2 separate regions of the Homo sapiens genome follow, and region 1 is linked to region 2. The links come from fine-mapping of genetic effects on gene expression. A gene starts in region 2. The other region holds a variant in brackets. All regions are shown on one strand. Distances are between the middles of the regions. Region 1 overlaps RANGAP1 (Ran GTPase activating protein 1). Region 2 holds the start of RANGAP1 (Ran GTPase activating protein 1).

Evidence for each region. PIP is the estimated chance that this variant, and not a neighbour inherited with it, causes the effect. A credible set is the group of variants that fine-mapping cannot tell apart.
Region 1: its variant is the best candidate, but not a certain one, in a credible set for the expression of RANGAP1 in whole blood (INTERVAL, PIP 0.60).

What each region holds. Positions count from the first base shown.
Region 1 is chr22:41,261,734-41,266,959 of GRCh38, forward strand. It overlaps RANGAP1 (Ran GTPase activating protein 1), which reads right to left. Exons shown (of 16, transcript NM_002883.4): 5 at 2,931-3,110. Among named protein-coding and RNA genes, the nearest start is that of MIR6889, 11 kb to the left of the region's middle. RefSeq lists an enhancer at 2,387-3,262. The variant G/A (reference allele first, on the strand shown) is at 2,908.
Region 2 is chr22:41,283,422-41,288,647 of GRCh38, forward strand. RANGAP1 (Ran GTPase activating protein 1) reads right to left here and starts at 2,766. Exons shown (of 16, transcript NM_002883.4): 1 at 2,565-2,766. RefSeq lists enhancers at 2,469-2,538, 2,969-3,188, 3,219-3,288, 3,609-3,658.

The sequences.
Region 1 (5,226 bases), 22 kb before region 2:
AAATATGTCCAGCACTTCAGTTACACAAGGTTTTTATCTCTAATGCTGTGTCACACCAGCCTGAGAGGTTTAGCTTCACTTTCGAGACGGGGAGACCAAGCCCTACTCAGGAAAGGGAGAGACCACATGGAGTGGATGAACTTTTAGCCAGGTCCAGGGGAAGGACTTCCTAGTCAGCTCACTTCACTGTCTAAGGCCCTCTGCTAGGTGGGAAAATCATGGCTCCCATTTTCCAGCTGAAGAAACTCAGGGTAAGAGGAACGGAAACTTTCTTATGGTCAATAAACAAGTGGTGGACTCTGGACCAAAGCCCAAATCTTCCAGCTTCTCTTCCACGTTCCACAATGTCCAAGGGAGCCAGCTGCCAAGTCCACGGTCCAGACGAACCTGTCTGACACCTGCCTGTGCCTAAAAGCTGGCCAGGCACAGCAGGAGCTTGCCTGCTGGTGGTAAAAACCTAACACCCAGCTTGCCCTGTCCCTGGTGTGGTGCCAGGAAGTAGCTTCTACCCTGGTTACACCATTAGGAAAAGCACTGAAAAACGGAGACTGACCGATGGGAATCAGAGCCCATGGTAAATGCGACATAAAAGAATCACGAGCGAGTGCACCGAGAGAAGTGATATTTGCAGAACACCTGATGTTTGCAGAGCACCTGCTAGGGCCTGGGCATCCTTGGCATATTTTCTTGTTTCAACCTCAACACCAGCCTGGGAGGCAGGCAGGATTGGCCGTACTTTACAGATGAGGAAGCTGAGGCTCTGAGAGATGAGTGAATTGGCCAAGGTCACCCGGTAAGTATTTAGCAAAGCCGCACATGGCGGGTGGGTTGGCCTAACTCCTGGCATGAGACTGCACACAGCCATCCTTGAGGAACAGAAGAGCCAGCACCTGCCTGACTCCACGGTGGTGATGGTGGATCACGCACACACGATCACGCACACACTCAGGGTAGAGACATCAAACTTCTGCCAAAGACCAGCCTCTGAGGAAGCTACTCAGCAGCAGCAGCCGACTGCTAGGTCACCCCCATTCTCCCAGATTCCCTGGAGGCCACGTGGTGATGGCCTTAGCTCCTGCAGGAGTCCAACTTGGGTATGGAGAGTTCTCAAGCACAGGGCCATGCCTCTTGCCCCACCAACTCCTCTGGGCCCTTCTATTCTCATGGTGCATGGCACAGAAACCACACTAAACACACTGCCCAGAAGAAAAAGATTCCAAAGGACCTGCAGGCCTTGGTTAGACACCCAGACCATGGCGTCTGAGCTCCCAAGAGGCATAGGTCAGCAAGGCCGAGACCCAGAGACCTAATCAAATCAGTGGTCAGGGAGGCACAGAGAACCATCAATCAAACTCCAGGGTAGGCCTGTCTGCCCAGGAGGCCCTCTGGTCCTGGGTCCAAAACTCATTCCCCAACTCACCCCATTACAAGTATAGGACAGGCCAGACAACTCCTGGCCAGTAGGAAAGCTCCCTGAGCCTCAGTTTCCAGGCACTGCTGGGCAGGAGAAGGGAAGTAATGGAAGGAAAACCGAAGCATTTTGCTAGAATAGAGTCTCTGGCTCTCCCAGCGTATGCCACTCACTCTAGGTTGGGCCACGCCTGCTTTCTGTGCTGACGCAAACGTTTTTATATGTTTCTGTTTGTTTGTTTGTTTGTTTGTTTTTTTGAGACGGAGTTTTGCTCTTGTTGCCCAGGCTGGAGTGCAGTGGCGCCATCTCGGCTCACTGCAACCTCCACCTCCCGGGTTCGAGCAATTCTCCTGCCTCAGCCTCCCGAATAGCTGGGACTACAGGCACCTGCCACCACACCCAGCTAATTTTTGTATTTTTAGTAGAGATGGGGTTTCACCATGTTGGCCAGGCTGGTCTCGAACGCCTGACCTCAGGTGATCTGCCCGACTCGGCCTCCCAAAGTGCTGGGATTACAGGCATGAGCCACTGCACCACCGTGCCCGGCCCATTTTTACATCTTAACACAGGGATAGCTTATTGCCCAAGTGGACTTGGGGGAGGGCTGGCTAAGGCAGGCACAGAGCCTGCCCCTGCTCACCCTCACGTCAGGCCGAGGGACACAGGCACCCTCTGCAGGGGAGGCCACTCCAGCTCCTCAGCCTGGGGCTCCATGGGCCTCACAGCACTAGCTATGTGATCCACTCCACCCCATCTCTCTAAGCCTATGCTGAGTCATGTGGAAAAACTGGGATGGCATCAGCCACCTTTCAGTGTGGGTGGGAAAAGTTAAGGTATTGCATATTCAAATAAGATATCCCCAACTGCTGTTACTTCTGTGTCCCCAGCCCTTTTCTCCCTTTGGTTAGAAAGTGTGTGTAGGGGTTGCAGCCTGGCACTCAGTGTCCTCCAACCCTGGGTCTAAAGGCACTGGGATGGAGTTGGAAGAGAATAATACGGCAGGCCGCCCTTGATGCAGGTTCTGGGAAGCAAAGAAGCTCCACTCTACACTGACCAGCCCAACGTGAAGCTCTACACTGACCTTGCCTGAGGACACCTCCCTGGGCAAGGCCCTGTCTAGGAATAAAGGTGAGCTGTGACGGTGCCCCCCCTGAGCATATGCTCCTCTTTTCAGACTCCCTCTGCCTATGTGCCAGGCTCTACCAGCTGCTCTGCGGGTACAGTGAGTATAGGGATGCCCCAAGCCCTGAGTTTTGCAGAGCCAGCAGGCTGGAGCAGGTATGCAGTGGCACTCCCTCTGCGTTGCCAAGCCAACCCAAGAACTGGGGATGGTTGCTTGGCAACCCCACCCTCATGGACGCCTCTACCCTCCGGCCACAGGCTGTTGCCTTTGAGGCCTTTCTCTTTTGAAAACAACGGCTGACCATCCCAGATGGTGGTGGCCAAGGGCCAGGGCACATATGTCAGACGGATGTGGATGGACCAGGGGACTCTGC[G/A]GGGAGGGGGCTGCCACACCCACCTTGCCGCCGCCAATGCCCATGCCACAGTTGTTGAGCTTGAGTTCCTGCAGGGTGAAGCAGGCTGAGCTCTTGAGCAGGGCCTCGAAGCCTTGCACACCGTCGGGCCCGAATGCGTTGTCGCTTAAGTCCAGCTCCACCAGCTGAGCCCCAGCTGTGATGAGTCCTTCCCCTAGTGAGATCTGGGCACAGAGGAAGCTCGTGTCAGTTTCATAGACACCCAGCTTCTGTGCTGGGTGCTGCTTCTGTGCCAGGCCCAGCTCTGCCTTCCAAGGACACCCCGGCTGGTGCAGAACCAACACAGACACAAACCATTTCAGTATTCTTAAGACTGGAAACCCTGCAAAGGGCTCCTAACAGCTGGAGAGTGGGGGATGCGTATGCCTGGAGTGGCCCGGGAAGGCTCCTTGTAAGAGGTGGCATTTGGACTTAGTCTGGATGAGAATCAGCTAGTCAACATGAAAAGACTCCAGGCAGCTGAAAAAACAGGAGCAGAGAGACATAAGCATGAAGCAGCAGGCTGTGAGCCTGGAGGAAAGCTGTGGGTAGGCTCCAGAAGAAGCCGTGGCATGGGCTTTGGGTGGAAGGGAAGTGAGGGGTCAGATCAGGCAAGAGCCTTGAATGCCAGGCCAAGGACTGTGAGCCTCAGCCTGAGAGCAGTGGGCTTTGAGGTGGCTGAGGGATATGGAATTAATATCCCCAGACCTGAGGTGAGCAGATGCACAGAAAGGGGGGCTGGAGTGCCCACCCAGGAGTGTGAGGCAGCGACACTGGCAACAGAGGGGACCTGCCAGCCGGTGTGACAAGTGTGGGAGAGGAGCTGCCTGTTCATGGAGCAGGGGACATGCAGAAGCTGTTGGTTCCCTGTTCGTGCAGGAGGAGGGAGGGAGGAACCACAAATGCCTCCAGGGTTTCTGGTGGTGACTGGCAGATGGAGGTGGCCATCTCTAAGCCACGGCCAGGATCAGCTTTGACAGGGTGATTTGAAGCTCTCCTGGAAACCTCCTGGGCTGGGGAGAGCTACATTCCCTCACCCCACCAGGAGAAATGGTCAGAGAGGAGGCTCTGCCAGAGACTGGGTCAGAAATGGGGCTGAGCAGGTGGTCCATGGGGGCAGGAATGTGGAAGGGAGACTTTCTGCCCTCACCCTGGCCACAGATATGGCAGATGAGGCAGTTTCTACCATCCTCCCACCACTCAGTAAGCAAAAGGCAATGTGTCCTCTCGTTGCCCTACCCACAGAAAGCCTAGCCCCTGGTGGCTGGGTGCGGTGGCTCACGCCTGTAATCCCAGCACTTTGGGAGGCCAAGGTGGGCGGATCACGAGGTCGGGAGATCGAGACCATCCTGGCTAACACAGTGAAACCCCATCTCTACTAAAAATACAAAAAATTAGCCGGGCATGGTGGCGGGCGCCTGTAGTCCCAGCTACTTGGGAGGCTGAGGCAGGAGAATGGCATGAACCCGGGAGGCGGAGCTTGCAGTGAGCCGAGATCGTGCCACTGCACTCCAGCCTGGGAAACAGAGTGAGACTCCGCCTCAAAAAAAAAAAAAAAGCCTAGCCCCTGGCGATCTGGCCTCAACTGACCTCTAGCTGCTCAAACACCCTGTGCCTACTCCACCACATGCCATCTTCTAACCCCAAATTCTCTTATCCCCCTCTTAAGATTTATTCTCACGATTGGGAACATAGAGATAAGAATACTTTCTCTTCCCCATTCCTACAGAGTCAAGTAAAAGAAAACAAAAACCAAAAGAATACCTTCTGAAAGCTCAGGGAAATGAAATGCTAAAATTTAGGCAAAACTTGCACAGTGAGAATTCCACAGTGAGTATGCAAAAGAGAGTTCTCTTCACCATCTTTTCTGACTTGAAATTCTTTTTTTTTGAGATGGAGTCTCGCTTTCTCTCACCCAAGGTTGCAATGCAATGGCACAATCTCAGCTCACTGCAACCTTCACCTCCCAGGTTCAAGTGATTCTTCCGCCTCAGCATCCTGAGTAGCTGGGATTACAAGGCCCCTGCCATCACGCCCAGCTAATTTTTGTACTTTTGTAGACACAGGGTTTCAGCATGTTGGCCAGGCTGGTCTCCAACTCCTGACCTCAGGTGATCCACGTGCACCGCCCCCCACCTTGGCCTCCCAAAATGCTGGGATTACAGGCGTGAGCCACTGCGCCTGGCCTAACTTGAAATTCTTTAACATGCAATCACTGAAATGAATTTCCTTTTTTTTTTGAGACGGAGTCTTGCTTTGTCACCCAGGTTGGAGTGCAGTGGCATGATCTTGGCTCACTGC
Region 2 (5,226 bases):
TTGCTTGAACCCGGGAGGCGGAGGTTGCAGTGAGCCAAGATCGCGCCATTGCATTCCAGCCTGGCGACAGAGCAAGACTCCAACTCAAAACAAACAAATAACAACAACAACAACAAAAAGGCATTAACAACAACAACAAAAAGGCATTATTAGGAAATAGTTAAATAAAGATATCAGGGATTGGGCCATGCACACATCTGGGGGAACATGATTCCTGCAAAGGGAATAGCAAATGCAATGGCTCTTGTAGGGGCAGAGGGTTGGAGAAACTGCAACAGGGCCAGTGGGGCTGAAGCACAGAGAGAGAGGAAAAAAACAAGGTAAGAGAAGAGACAGTTAACAAGGGGCCCAAGTCATAAAGCCCATTTGAAGAACAGTGGCTTTCGCTATAAGTGACAAGGAAAACCACTGAAGTTTTTAGCAGAAAGCAGATGTCATCTGACGTACATTTTGACAGGATCACTCTACTTGCCACATAGAGCCTGGCATTTAGAAGGTGCTCAAGAAACGACCAGTTGAAATTGCATAAAAATTAACCAGGCCAGGGCCGGGCGCAAAGGCTCACACCTATAATCCTAGTACTTTGGGAGGCTGAGGTGGGCGGATCACGAGGTCAGGAGATCGAGACCATCCTGGCTAACACGGTGAAACCCGTCTCCACTAAAAATACAAAAAATTAGCCGGGCCTGGTGGCGGGGGCCTGTAGTCCCAGCTACTCGGGAGGCTGAGGCAAGAGAATGGCATGAACCCGGTAGGTGGAGCTTGCAGTGAGCTGAGATTGCGCCACTGCACTCCAGCCTGGGCAACAGAGCGAGACTCACCTCAAAAAAATAAAATAAAATAAAATAAAATAAAAATTAACCAGGCCGGGTGCGGTAGCTCACGCCTATAATCTCAGCACTTTGGGAGGCTGAGGTGGGTGGATTACCTGAGGTCGGGAGTTCGAGACCACCCTGGCCAACATGGAGAAACCCTGTCTCTACCAAAAATACAAAATTAACCGGGCGTGGTGGCACATGCCTGTAATCCCAGCTACTCAGGAGGCTGAGGCAGGAGAATCGCTTGAATCTGGGAGGCAGATGTTGGGGTGAGCTGAGATCGTGGCATTGCACTCCAACGTGGGCAACAAGAGTGAAACTCCGTCTCAAAAAAAAAAAAAATTAACCAGAGTCGGGTGTAATGGTTCACTCCTGCAATCCCAGCATTTCCGGAGGCTGAGGTGGGCGGATCGATTGAGCACAGGAGTTAGAAACCAGCCTGGGCAGTATGCCGAAACCCTGTCTCCACTAAAAATACAAAAACTAGCTGGGTGTGGTGGCAGGTGCCTGCAGTCCCAGCTACCTGGGATGTAAGGTGGGAGGATCACTTGAGCCCCGTAGGTGGAGGCTACAGTGAGCTGAGATCTTGCTGCTGTACTTCTGGAGACCCTGTTTCAAAAAATAAATTAACCAGAAACCAGCCCAGTGCAATAACTCACACCTGTAATTCCAACATTTTGGGAGGCTAGGCGGGAAGATCACTTTAGACCAGGGTTCGAGACAAGCCTGGGCAACAGAATGAGACCCTGTCTCCACAGAAAAATTTAAAAATTAGCCAGGTGTGATGGCATCTGTAGTCCCCATGACTTGGGAGGTTGAGGTGGGAGGATCGCTTGAGCCCAGGAAGCCGACGCTGCAGTTCAGCGGTGATCGTTCCACTACACTCCAGCCTGGGTGACAGAAGGAGACCGTCTCTAAAAAGATAAAAAAATTTAAAGAAAAACCAACAAAAAAATTAACCTGAAACCCCAGCATCTCTTGCAGTTCTGAGATGGGACAATTTGAGGGTAAAAGGTGGTGGTGAAGCCTCCAGATAGAATAGGGACAGAACTTCTCAGCTGAACGGGGGCCCATTCCTCAGTCCAAGAGAGAGCGAGACAGAGATGCACCCCTCCACACTCACTTTATAAACCAAGAAACTGGAGCACAGAAACGTAAATTGATTTGTCCAAGGTCAGCAAAGGATCAGCGCCAGAGCAAAAGCAAAGGGCTAATAGAGAAACATCCTCTCCCCGCTCCGCAGCAACGTCAGAGACTTTCTGAGGTGAGATGCATGCTCCTGCAAAGCGTCAGCAGTGACTCACATCGATTCCAGGGACAGCGGCGCCAGCCCGGGGCCCCCGCGGGCGTGGGCCTGCTGGGAGGTGGCTCTGCGGGAGCGACGCGCGAATACAGGCCGCAAATGATAGGCGGGCGGCGCAGGAGCCCCATCTGGAATCCCCGGCGGACTCGCACCGCCTCCGGTTGACAACAATGCTAATATGAGACGCCACTGCTAGCAGCTGCAGGCTGAGCTGCTCTGGCGAGTCAGACGCCCTTTAAGCCTCAGTTTCCCCATTTGTGAAAGGAGCCAGCGCCGCTCAACAACCCCACTCCCACCGCCACCCCTGGGGCGCTCGGCCGTCGAAGGCTAAGTGAAGAAGGCCGAGGGGGCAGGCAGAAGGCGCACACGGGCGCCACGCCCTCCTCGCCCCGCACCCCTGTTCCAGGCAGGTGACGGGGAAAGGAAAGGGACCCTGACTCTACCGTAAACAGGCGGCGCCGCCGCGTGGGGGGAATCGAGCGCGCGCCTCCGCCCTCTGGGGCGGGGACGGATTTAGGGTCCGGGTCAGGCCGGGGTCGCCACCTCCGGATCCAGCGGTCCAGATGTCCAGCCGGCTAGTCTGTTAGCTCTCTCGAGCTCCCGGCCTCACGCGCTTCCAGCACCACCTGCTCTCCGCACCGCGGCGGATGATGGCGGAGGAGGAGGATTTTGAAAGCCGGCAGTTTCTTTGCTTCGATTTGATTTGTTCGAGGCCCCGGCCGGCTTGCCCTCGCCCCGCTCGCGCGGCCTCTCGGGTAGAGTAGTCCGGTTCCCCATCTGGGAGCGCGATGGGGCGCGCACCGCGAACTACCCGTCCCATGGCGCACCGCGCGCAGAGCGTCCTCCACCGCCCTCCTCTTCGCCCTCCCCTGGTGGCTTCTGGCTCTTTCTCGCAGAGACCGCAGGGAGGTGTTCAGCCGGGAGCGCCCAGAGACTACAATTCCCAGAATGCGTTGCACCCAGGTCCCTCAGCTCTTCCGGAAAGGTTTTGTTCGCGTAACTTTGTTGATAACAGGTACTGCTGGCTGCTGGGTCTCTTGGGCAAGACACAGGTATCCATTTCCCGAAAGAAAAGACTCTTTTCCGTCCCATGAAACTGAAAGGGCATTCGAAGGCTTCCACATAAATATGCACAAATTACCTGATAATTAAAAAGGGGAAATAGTAACTATCGTAGAGAAGCTCCGCAGACACCACTTGAACGGCCACGTTAACATCAACAGCAGGACAAGCTGACATTCATCGCACGCTTTCTGTGTGATGCACTGAGAAAAACACGGCGTCACCGTCCGGTCTATAATGCATGACCTTAGTCTAATCATGAGAAACCCAAGCTGAGGGACATGGTACAGAATAACTGATCTGTACCCTTCCGGAAATGTCTGTATTATGTAAGACAAAGAAAAACTGAGGAACTGTTGCCGATTACAGGAAACGAAAAAGACAACTGAATGCAAGACATGGTCCTGGATCGGATCCTGGGTGGGGATTGCTATAAAGGACAATACTGAAACAGCAAAACTTGACTATATTAGATAATAGTATTGTATCAATGTTAAATTTATTAATTTTGATTATGGTACAGGGTTATGTAAGAGACTGCCCTTGTTCTTGGAAAAAAATGCTGAAATAATTAGGGACAAAAAGGACATGATGTCTGCAACCTTTATGGTTAAAAGAAATATACCTATACATATACATAGAGAAAGCAGAGACACAAATGTGGCAAAATGTTAATCAGTTAATCTGGTTGAAGAATATGGGAGTTCTTTGAACATTTTTGCAACTTTTCTGTAGGTGTGAATTTAAGCATAAAAACACAAACAGCGTTTTTTTTTTGTTTTTTTTTTTTGAGATGGAGTTTCACTCTTGTTGCCCATCTTGGCCTCCCAAAGTGTTGGGATTATAGGCGAGAGAGTGTGAGACCAGCCTGGGCAACATGGTCAAACCCTGTCTCGACAAAAAATACAAAAATTAGTTGGACGTGATGGTGCAAGCCTGTAGTCTCAGCTAAGGGCCTGAGGCAGGAGGATCTGGAGCCTGGGAGCTTGAGGCTGCAGTGAGCCGTGATTGCACCACTGCATTTCAGCCCTGGCGACAGAGCAAGACCTTGTCTCAAAAACTGAAAAAAGAAAAAAAAAAAAAGTTAAACAGATCATGCAGGCTGGGCGCAGTGGCTCACACCTGTAATCCCAGCACTTTGGGAGGCCGAGGCGGGCGGATCACCTGAGGTCAGGAGTTTGAGACCAGCCTGACCAAAATGGAGAAACCCCGTCTCTACTAAAAATATAAAATTAGCTGGGCATGGTGACGCATGCCTGGAATCCCAGCTACTCGGGAGGCTGAGGCAGAAGAATCGCTTGAACCCGGGAGGCGGAGGTTGCAGTGAGCCGAGACGCACCATTGCACTCCAGCCTGGGCAACAAGAGCGAAACTCCGTCTCTAAATAAATAAATAAATTAATTAATTAATTAACAGATCATGCCATATCCTTTTACACACAGCTCATTTAATCTTCACCACCACAAGGGAAGTGGGCATCATTACCACCCTTCCCAGCACAGAGATGAGAAAACTGAAGCTCTAGACAGAGTGTAACTCTCCCAGTTCTCAAAGTTCCTGAGATGTGGATCCTCTTTCCACCTTCCCTCTCCTTTTTACCTACAAGGCCCATGTCAAATGCTACTTCATGAGTCTCTCCCTCCTGCAGGTGCCCACAGCAAGATGCAAAGCCCCACAGCAGTTGGCCTGGGACTCTGGGGCTCTTTGACAGAGTTAACACTGTTCTTGGCAGTTTCCTCCTCAGCCTGGGAGGGTCTCCAGAGCAGACGCTGTATCCATCTGGGCAGTATCTTCTCTGGGCCTGGCCTGTCATAGGTGCTTCAGGTTTCCCCATTTGAACCAGATACCAGTCGGGTTACCGGATGTTTGCTTAAAATGAGTCATAGGCTTCCTGCTATTCCTGTGCTGCTTCCAGCTAGGACTGATCGAATCAGTCTGGATTTTCCTTGGGGTGATCCGCAGGCTCCCTTTTCCAATTTTACTTCTTGAGACTTTCCTTGGCCCTCACACAGAGACCTCCCAAAGGGAAGAGGAAGGTGGGCA